3 separate regions of the Homo sapiens genome follow, and all the other regions are reported to be linked to region 3. Evidence: microRNA targets listed by miRTarBase, many of them from high-throughput screens and not tested one by one. Region 3 holds a microRNA gene; each other region holds the end of a gene's coding sequence.
Evidence for each region. The annotated mature microRNA hsa-miR-4295 reads CAGUGCAAUGUUUUCCUU and lies in region 3 at 1,873-1,890, opposite strand. An mRNA with a match to its seed (bases 2 to 7 or 8) in the 3' UTR can be bound and repressed. Matches are read on the target gene's strand: a 7mer-m8 pairs with bases 2 to 8, a 7mer-A1 pairs with bases 2 to 7 and ends in A, and an 8mer does both.

Region 1 (3,000 bases), not on the chromosome of region 3:
TTCTGTCATCCAGGCTGGTGGAGTGCAGTGGCACCATCTCAGTCACTGCAACCTCCGCCTCCCAGATTCATGTGATTCTCCTGCCTCAGCCTTCCCAGTAGCTGGAACTACAGACATGCACCACCACACCCAGCTAATTTTTGTATTTTTAGGAGAGACAGGGTTTCGCCATTTTGGCCAGGCTGGTCTCAAACTCCTGACCTCAGGTGATCTGCCTGCCTCAGCCTCCTGAAGTAATGGGATTACTGGAGTAACCCACCATGCCTGGCCCCATGTGTTTTCAAGAAATCATTACAGGTAAGTGTCTCAAAAGAATGAGCCATTACCTGTAGAAAAGTGACTGCAATACAACAGTAATACTTACAATACCTTATGGGAAAAAAAAAAGACACCATATATTTAATCGAGGCAAGGAACATCAAGATGTATTAAGCAAATCTCACGGGTAGGTTAACACTATAAAATTATGTACTTCCTAAGGCAAAAAAAAAATGCCATTTTAGGAAAAGGAAACAGTGGCACATTAACTGTGTTTATGGATGATACACTCTGGTTTCACATGGTATCCTTTTAAAAATACCTTAAAACAGAAAATGGCTGGGCGTGGTGGCTCACACCTGTAATCCCAGCACTTTGGGAGGCTGAGGCTAGCGGATCACTGGATGTCGGGAGTTTGAGACCAGCCTGGCCAACATGGTGAAACCCCGTCTCTACTAAATATACAAAAATTAGCTGGATGTGGTAGAGAATGCCTGTAATCCTAGCTACTTGGGAGGCTGAGGCAGAAGAATCACTTGAACCCGGGAGGCAGGGGTTGCAGTGAGCTGAGATTGTGCCACTGCACTTCACCCTGGGCAAAAAGAGTGAGATTTCATATCAAAAAAAAAAAAAAAAAAAAAACAAAAGTAACCTGAGAAAATGGAAAACGTGTTTAAATTTAAGTGGGGAAAAAAAGCTAATGCAAGTCACATATCCAGTCTATTACGATTTATAGCTACTAAAGGTGGCTATTTTTTGGCAAACAGCATGATGTTGGAAATTATGCATAAAAATTCTATATGGAGATAATGCTCAAAGCTACCATATAAATCATAAGGAATTATGGCTGGGAGCAGTGGCTCACTCCTGTAATCCCAGCACTTTGGGAAGCCAAGGCAGGTAAATCACTTGAGGCCAGGAGTTAGTTCAAGATGAGCCTGGCCAACATGGTGAAACCTCATCTCTACTAAAAATACAAAAAAATTAGCCAGGCATTGTGGCGGGCACCTGCAGTCCCAGCTACTCGGGAGACTGAGGCAGGAGAATCACTTGAACCCAGGAGGCGGAGTTTGCAGTGAGCCCAGACTGCATCACTGCAATCTAGTCTGCTCAACAAAGCAAGACTCTGTCTCAAAAAAAATAAAAAGTAGGCCGGACACAGTGGCTCACGCCTGTAATCCCAGCACTTTGGGAGGCCGAGGCAGGCGGATCACCTGAGGTCAGGAGTTCAAGACCAGCCATGACCAACATGGAGAAACCCCGTCTCTACTAAAAATACAAAAATTAGCTGGGCGTGGTGGTGCATGCCTGTAATCCCAGCTACTTGGGAGGCTGAGGCAGGAGAATCTCTTGAACCCGGGAGGTGGAAGTTGCAGTGAGTGGAGATCGAGCCATTGCACTCCAGCCTGGGCAACAAGAGTGAAACTCCATCTCACAAAAAATAAATAAATAAATAAAATAAAATTTAAAAAAAATGAAAAAATATCATAATTAATTCTATTTCCCAGCAGAATTTTCTTTTTTTTTTTTTGCCCCCCACATCTGAGAAGCCAGAGCGAGAATTTTCATTCCTTATATTGACACTTCAATTATCATTAGTTTGATCTTTATTAAAAAGGAATGGTGCCAGGCGGGGTGGCTCACTCTTGTAATTCCAACACTTTGGGAGGCAAAGGCAGCAGGATCACTTAAGGCCAGAAGTTCAAGGCCAGCCTGGGCAACATAGTGAGACCCCATCTCTACAAAAAATTAAAAAATTAGGTAGGCATGGTAGTACACACCTGTAGTCCCAGCTACTTGGGAGGCTGAAGTGAGAGAATCACCTGAGCCCAGAAGGTTGAAGCTGCAGTGAGCTATGATCGCACCACTGCTAGCCTGGGCAACAGAGCAAGACCTAGTCCCTAAAAAAATTTGAAAAATAAAAAGAGAATGGTTTCTACCATATTACAAATTAGTGAGTGAATGATTATTAGTTTATCAATAGCAAATAATTTCCACAGTTGTATCTCTCTCTTTTTTTTTTTTTTTTTTGAGTCTCGCTCTGTTGCCCAGGCTGGAGTGCAGTGGCACAATCTCAGCTCACTGCAACCGCTGCCTCCCGGGTTCAAGTGATTCTCCCGCTTCAGCCTCCTGAGTAGCTGGAATTACAGGCACCCACCATCATGCTCGGTTAATTTTTGTATTTTTAGTAGAGACAGGGTTTCACCATGTTGGCCAGGCTGGCTTGAACTCCTGACCTCAGGTGGTCCGCCCACCTTGGCCTCCCAAAGTACTGGGATTACAGGTGTGAGCCACTGCACCCAGCCCACAGTATTACCTCTTAAATTTACCTTATTATCTGGAGCCCCTAGAGTCTTATTTTCCTTTTGGACATGAATTCAGGAACAGTTCAATATACCTATGATCTGAGGATAATGAGAAAGATTAGTTTTAAAAAGTTGAAAAGGTAGAAAAATATTACAGCCATTTTTCTCACAGTTCAGACAGCAACTCAAACCCTTTGCCCTTTCCTTTCCCTAATTAAAAACAAAATTTAGGCCAGACACGGTGGCTCACGCCTATTGTAATCCCAGTACTTTGGGAAGCCGAAGTGGGAGGATCACCTGAGGTAAGGAGTTCAAGCCAGCCTGGCCAATGTAGCGAAACCCCATCTCTACTAAAAATACAAAAATTAGCCAGTGTGGTGGTGGGTGCCTATAGTCCCAGCTACTCGGGAGGCTGTGGCAGGACAATCACTTGAAC
Region 2 (3,000 bases), not on the chromosome of region 3:
TTGCTTGTGCTAGAAATAACAGCATCTAAAGTGAAGACTTAAGAAAAAACTTAGTGGCTACTAGACTATCCTTAGGACTCTGCATTAACTCTATAATGTTATTGCTTTTTTTAAGCATATTTGTCAGAGTAGTCAATATGTTAAAACTGAACATGTATGAAAGTTGCTTAGATAAATGTAATCACTGTAAACATCAAAAAAGAGAGAAACTTGTAAAGCATTTCAGCAGTGCCTAAAGAAAATTTTAAGCCTCAAACACTTTATATATAATCTCATTTAATTCTCACTGCAACTCCATGAAGCAGTGTAGTTATTTTTATGCCTGATTACTAATGTGGCAACAGGCATGAAGTTAAATGCACACAATTAGTAGCAAGAGGATTTGCACAGTTTCTGGCTCCAAAGTCTTTGAAAGTCTTTGTGTTTCTACCATGCAGCTTTTTTCTTTTTTTCAGTTTCCTTTATTTTTTGCTTGCACTTTGATATTTTAAAGGGGACACGAGACAAGAGGCTGTATGCCTTACTTTTGGTGCTGCCTAGCTTATCTTTATACAAATTAAAGATTAACTTTCTCTGGCAACTGGCAAGCACCCATCTTGACACTTCCACATTTTTTTTCACTGCTGCTAAAAGCTGATAGACTTGAACTGCCCCTGCCCGCCAGCACCACAAAACATTTTGCTTGTTTTTTAAGACCGCTAACTTATATGTATTTTAAATTCAAGCCCTACGAGCTTAGAGAATGCCTCATGACTTCAACAAGTTGATCTGACATTTATACCCCAAAACAAATAATGAAATAAAGAATATGCAGAGCACATTCTTTTACCTTTCCCACCATCCCAGCAGAGCATCATAATGGCACCTAAGCATTCCCAAGGGCTCCACAGCAGCCTTGATCAGAACTGCTGTCCACAATTGCAGACTGGCTCACTGAAAAACTGGAAGCATTACTGGACGCCGCTCAACAAAGCTTAGCCCTTTTTGGAACTAGTGAAAGAAGTCATCGATCATGTTGTAATGCATTTAAATGTCTACTCAGATAAACATAAAAACCTGTAAGGTGTGTGCACTAGGATTAGCTGGTCTTCCCTTCTAATTTTCACTTCTCAGTAACCAAGTGAAATTTCAGCCTTGTTTTTATGCCTCAAAACACTTTAGCTTGTGCTTGAGCTTCTTAAAAAATTCAAAATGTTAATTACGCACTCCAATAAGTTAGCCAAATTGGTTGAAAGATACAATATATGTACCTTCCCAAATATTTTAAATATTTCTGAACTTTTTGTTGAGATGTATGGTCTTATCTTGGTACTGAATTAGAAATAAAGTTTGGAAGTAAATTTTGTCAGTACCTAGTTCCCAAACAAAGCTAAATACTTGCACAGATGAATATCCACCACCATGAAATACCAGAGAGAACACAAAATTTACTTTTGCTAGTAAATCAATTAAATTGATTTTTATTTAATGACGAAACCATTCATTGGCAGATTAATGAGGACCAGACGCTTGTCCAATTTAGTTGACACATTTGCTTTTTTATTTTTTAGAATATAGTCTACATCTGGATTAAAAAAAGTTTTAAATAAATTTAAGACATACAACAACAGTGGAACCCTTCATCATTCTATGTACAACACGATAGAATGTCAGTTGGTTCCATTTCGGTTAAGTCCACTTTCTCATAATAATGTTATTATTTTCACTGAGTGGCAAGCTACGTACAAGCTGGCGAAATGCCAGCTTATACACACTGGGGTGGGGGTGGGGACGGGAGTGGCACGAAAGGGATGGGGTGGGGGTGCCATAGGACTACTATACAGTGTAACAGAAAATCATTAATAAAGTAGTACCGATTACCGACAGACAGTGCTGTTTGTGCGCTTATCACAATGGAATCGCTGAAGTTTCAGAGCAAGGAGGAGATTCGAAATACTTCACACAGGGCCAATGTTACAAAAAGAAATAGTGCAAACAGGAAAACTGATGCAATCCTAGCAACGCCTGGGCCTCCACCGGCCCAACCGCAGGGCGGCGGGAGGCTACGCGCCCCGCCTTCCCCAGCACCCAGCTCCGGGCTGCTTTCCCAAGTGTGGCAACCCAGCGCCGCGCCCTGGTATGGCCCCTTCTCGGGCCCTCTCCTCCGAAAAGAACAGAAAAGAAACCCCAGGAAAGGCACAGGCTGAATGCAGGGCGTCAGCCCAGTCCCATTCCCACCAACATAGAATGCAGGCCCCCTCCCAGGAGGTTCCTTGGGCCCTCCCATCTCCGGCCACCATTTTCTTCTCTCTCACACGTGGCCCCCTCCTCCACGCAGCCCCACCGCGCCTCCTGCACGTACGCAGCCCCCCAGTTTGCAGTCTGCCCTTCCCGCCCCCCAGCCAGGAAAAAAAAAAAAAGCTTTGAGGAATGAGAGAGGGTGAGATGGGTCGAAGAAGGTGCTGGGCAGCCACGGGCGCCACGCCTCAGTGGCCCCAATTGCCGAAGCCGATCTCCTGCTTGTATCTGTTAGTGAGGATGTTGGCTTTGCGCGTGAGTTTCGAGAGCACAGTGTGCAGCCCGCGCAGGTGGTAGTGGAACTGCTGTTCCAGGTCTTCTTCGCCGGCGTCCGCACCCTCCAAGTGGCCCAGGTCCACCAGGATGTCCTTGGACTTCCAGGCACTGCCCTCCTCGCTCCCAGCCGGTGGAGGCGGCTGGTGCAGGACCCCCCACTCGATGTCGTTGCGGATGGACTTGAGAAGCACGTAGTGGCTGTACATGTCCCGAGAGGGCGCGAAAAAGCTGCCATTGGCGCTTCCCGAGTCGGGGACTGGGGGCGTGCGCTCCTCCAGGCAGCCGCCACTGCCGCCTACCTCCACGCCAACATCGTTGTCTAACCCGGGGTCAGCCAGGGGCACGTCGCGCAGCAAGCTGGGCACCATCACCGTCTGGTCCATGTTGTTCACGGCGCCAATGAAGCGATTCATGGCGTTAAAGAGCGAGTGCTTCTGGTTGTAGGTG
Region 3 (3,200 bases):
ACCCATAATTATTGGCAGTTCAAGTTCTTACTTTGTATTTCTTTCCTACATTCTCCAAACAGTCTCCTTTGAGATCCTCATTCACTTTCATGGTTTTTAAATATCATCTCTGTTTCTATGCTTAATCTGTTAAAAACTATTCCAAGTTTTACTCCCCATTTCCTATTACATGCTGGGTAGTTCACTCATCCCTTAAATTCAGTGGGCATGAATAAAAATCACAGCTTCTTGCTATGTGCCTCTTCCCATCAGCTAAATGTGGGCGAATCAAGTGGGTCTCTTGGGACTCACACATATCAACTCAGTTTGAATCTTCCTTTATTTTGCTTCCCATTTTGAACCAGTCATCGGGTTTTCTCAAATCTTTCTTTGAATTATCTCTCATACTTGTTTCTTTTCCATTCCTACTGTTGTAACCTCTCACAAAGACCAGTGCAAAAGCCTCTTAACTGGTTTCCCTGTCTTCATTGTCTACAACCATCAGTACGTCTCGATTGTTTGATCTTTCTAAAATCTTCCTAAAACACCACTCTGGCCATGCTCACCAAGAAAAATCCAAGGTTTAAGCCAGCATTTAGAACCTTTCAGAATTTAGGCCTAAATACTCTTTCAGGCTTCTCTCTCAATTCTCTCTGGCATATATTCTAGACTTGGCCACCTCTGAGCTTTGACCCTTGCGGTTCCCTGTCTGGAATGCCTCTACCAATCTCCAATCCGTACAATCCTGCTGACTGCTCACGGTTCTGCTAAAACACTACATCTGCCATGAATTCTGCATCTGCCTTTACCAAAGGGATCTTTCTCCTTAAATTCCTCAGCACGCTGTCTCATCTCCACAAGATTTACATGCCTGCATTATCCTCTTTACCAGAGTAAAAGCTGCTTGAAGGCAGGAAATGTGTTATCTTTTATTCCCCCCAAATAATGAGCACAGTGCCTGGCTCATATTATGAATAAAGGCACCTCCAGCCCCAGCTTTCTGAACTTTGCAGTTACAGGCAACAACAAGGCAGTGAAAACTCCGGCAAATGTCCGTAGGAGACTCCTAGAATTAGCTCCTCTAATGCTCCTCTGTCTGCCTATTTTAACAGTTAAGGAAGACACAGAAAAAATGTTGGCCACTCAGTCCAGGATTCAACCCCAGAGTTTATTTATTATGCATGTTTATGTATTCAGATTGTGAAGGAGGCAATGGGCATGGATTGTAAATTGATGGCAAACTTAATGAAAAGCAGACAAAACAGTGTAAGAAGGCTTAAATGCCTTTTAGAACATGGCAGATATATAAAAAAGTCATAAGAAAGTTTACAATAAAGAAAAGAATGTGGAAGAGTGAGAGTCAAAAAAGATAATTACGTAGAAGATTTTTAAACAGCTTGTCTAATGGAGATGCTGAGTGATTAAGACAAACAGCTTGCCAAACCACCTTGTCACAGGGACATAAATCTGAAAAAGCAGCAGACTCCTCAGAAAGGTCAGACAGATCACATTTAGTTTCAAAAGGAAGAAAACATGAAATTCGTGTGTGTGTGTGTGTGTGTGTGTGTGTGTGTGTATGTGTGTGTGTGTCTGTGTGTGTGTGTATAACCACCGAGAGGCAATGGTATGATATTGATAATCTTTGGAGAAAGAAACCTTCTGTATTGTCAAGTGACTTAAAACTCGAGGCACAATCCAAAACAAGAATTAAATAGCACAGCATAGTGTAGTCAACACCATATGAGAGGGTGCCTTCAGGGCAACACACACTGCTGCCAGAACACCAACCAAAAAATGGACAATCAGGATCTCAAAAGAGATGAGTCACCCAGAGGGTCTCTGTAGGAACAGTCTAGTTTCTTAGCCTTGAACCGAAGTGGTCTTGCCACAGGCAAGGAAAACATTGCACTGTTCCACAAAGTCAATTCTAAATGCATAAGCCATTGAAGCATATTTCTTATGGAATAAAGACTGAGGAGAAATAAAGGTTGAGTAATGAAAGTAAAGATGCAACAAAACTTTTAAAGTGGCCAATCTTGCTCATATAATGCTTGCAACCAAAAGGGAAGAAAGCTCTATTACTCTGGGAAAAAGGTGTTTGGATACACCACTAAAATAGGAAGCCTAAAAGAACCATTGTTTTATAATTCTGAGTTAACTGTGATCCTTTTTCCTTTTTTCCGTTTGTTAACTGATGGTATTTTCTGGAGTGAGTCATGACTTTTTTTTTTTTTTAGTCTAGAGCCAACTTGATAATGCTATTTAAATAAATTAACTAACTAAACTGCAAAGTATAAGCTCTTATGCCCATAAAATAAGAGAAGAACTGGGAAGTTCACCAACAAGGATGAAATAGGAGAGGCATTTAATAAAATTTGGTGACAGAGTCAGGGTAAGGTAACTCTCTCAGTGACACATTTATGTAATGCTAGTCTTCTCTGCATGGGAGACATTACTTTTTGGGGGCAATGCCCTTTTCCTCACCACTGCTTTTCTCCAATCTCTTCTTTGACTTCCTTTTGGGATCCCTGGGTATCCTGCTGTGTTGTTCCAGCCCCGGTGTTTTGCCTGCTATCTCTTTTCAATGTCTGAAGATCAATTATCCCTTCGTGCTAGCATAGGGAGGACAGAAATTCTGGGGACCACAACTTTTCCATTATACTTGAAGGAAAAAAGCAGCTCTCTCCTGTAAGATGGAGAATTCGGAGGTTTCCTCACAGGCTTCTGGTGATGCTTAAAGCAGAGAATCAACCTACAGGGTTTTAGCACAGTGCCTGGCACATGCGGAGTACTCAAAGGATGTGAGCTAATCTTCTTCTTACTATTATTATGTAAGTCCCGTAATTCTCTATGACCCACTATGTGTTCCAGATGATGCCGAAGACCTAGAAAAGTGGCTTTCATCACCATCAGACCTCTCCTCTCCTTCAGACCTCTCCTCTCAGGACTCACCATGTTGGTCAGGCTGCTCTCAAACTCCTGACCTCGTGATCTGCCCGCCTCAGCCTCCCAAAGTGCTGGGATTACTGGCATGAGCCACCACGCCCAGCCCAGACCACCTTTTTGTAACAAATATTTCACACAGGATTTTTAAAAAAGAAATCAATATAATGCCCTAGCTGTAATATAAATACAGGAAAATAACTTACAACAAAATAAGAAGTATTTCTATTTGTAAATACCCAGGCATTACTATACTAATAGATACAACTAAGTAAGTA

Region 1: the mRNA of GRSF1 is a reported target of hsa-miR-4295. The part of its 3' UTR that is shown has no 7-base or 8-base seed match.
Region 2: miRTarBase lists MID1IP1 as a target of hsa-miR-4295. Seed matches in the 3' UTR shown: 8mer at 1,967-1,974.

What each region holds. Positions count from the first base shown.
Region 1 is chr4:70,821,706-70,824,705 of GRCh38, forward strand. It overlaps GRSF1 (G-rich RNA sequence binding factor 1), which reads right to left. Exons shown (of 10, transcript NM_002092.4): 9 at 2,589-2,663. The coding sequence ends at 2,614. Among named protein-coding and RNA genes, the nearest start is that of GRSF1, 17 kb to the right of the region's middle.
Region 2 is chrX:38,804,964-38,807,963 of GRCh38, reverse strand. It overlaps MID1IP1 (MID1 interacting protein 1), which reads right to left. Exons shown (of 3, transcript NM_021242.6): 3 at 1,432-3,000. The coding sequence ends at 2,466. Among named protein-coding and RNA genes, the nearest start is that of MID1IP1-AS1, 2.6 kb to the right of the region's middle.
Region 3 is chr10:112,632,870-112,636,069 of GRCh38, reverse strand. MIR4295 (microRNA 4295) reads right to left here and starts at 1,900; the gene lies at 1,816-1,900. All of the region lies in intron 5 of VTI1A (vesicle transport through interaction with t-SNAREs 1A), which reads right to left. It overlaps LOC124902503 (a long non-coding RNA gene), which reads right to left. Exons shown (of 2, transcript XR_007062292.1): 2 at 1-3,200.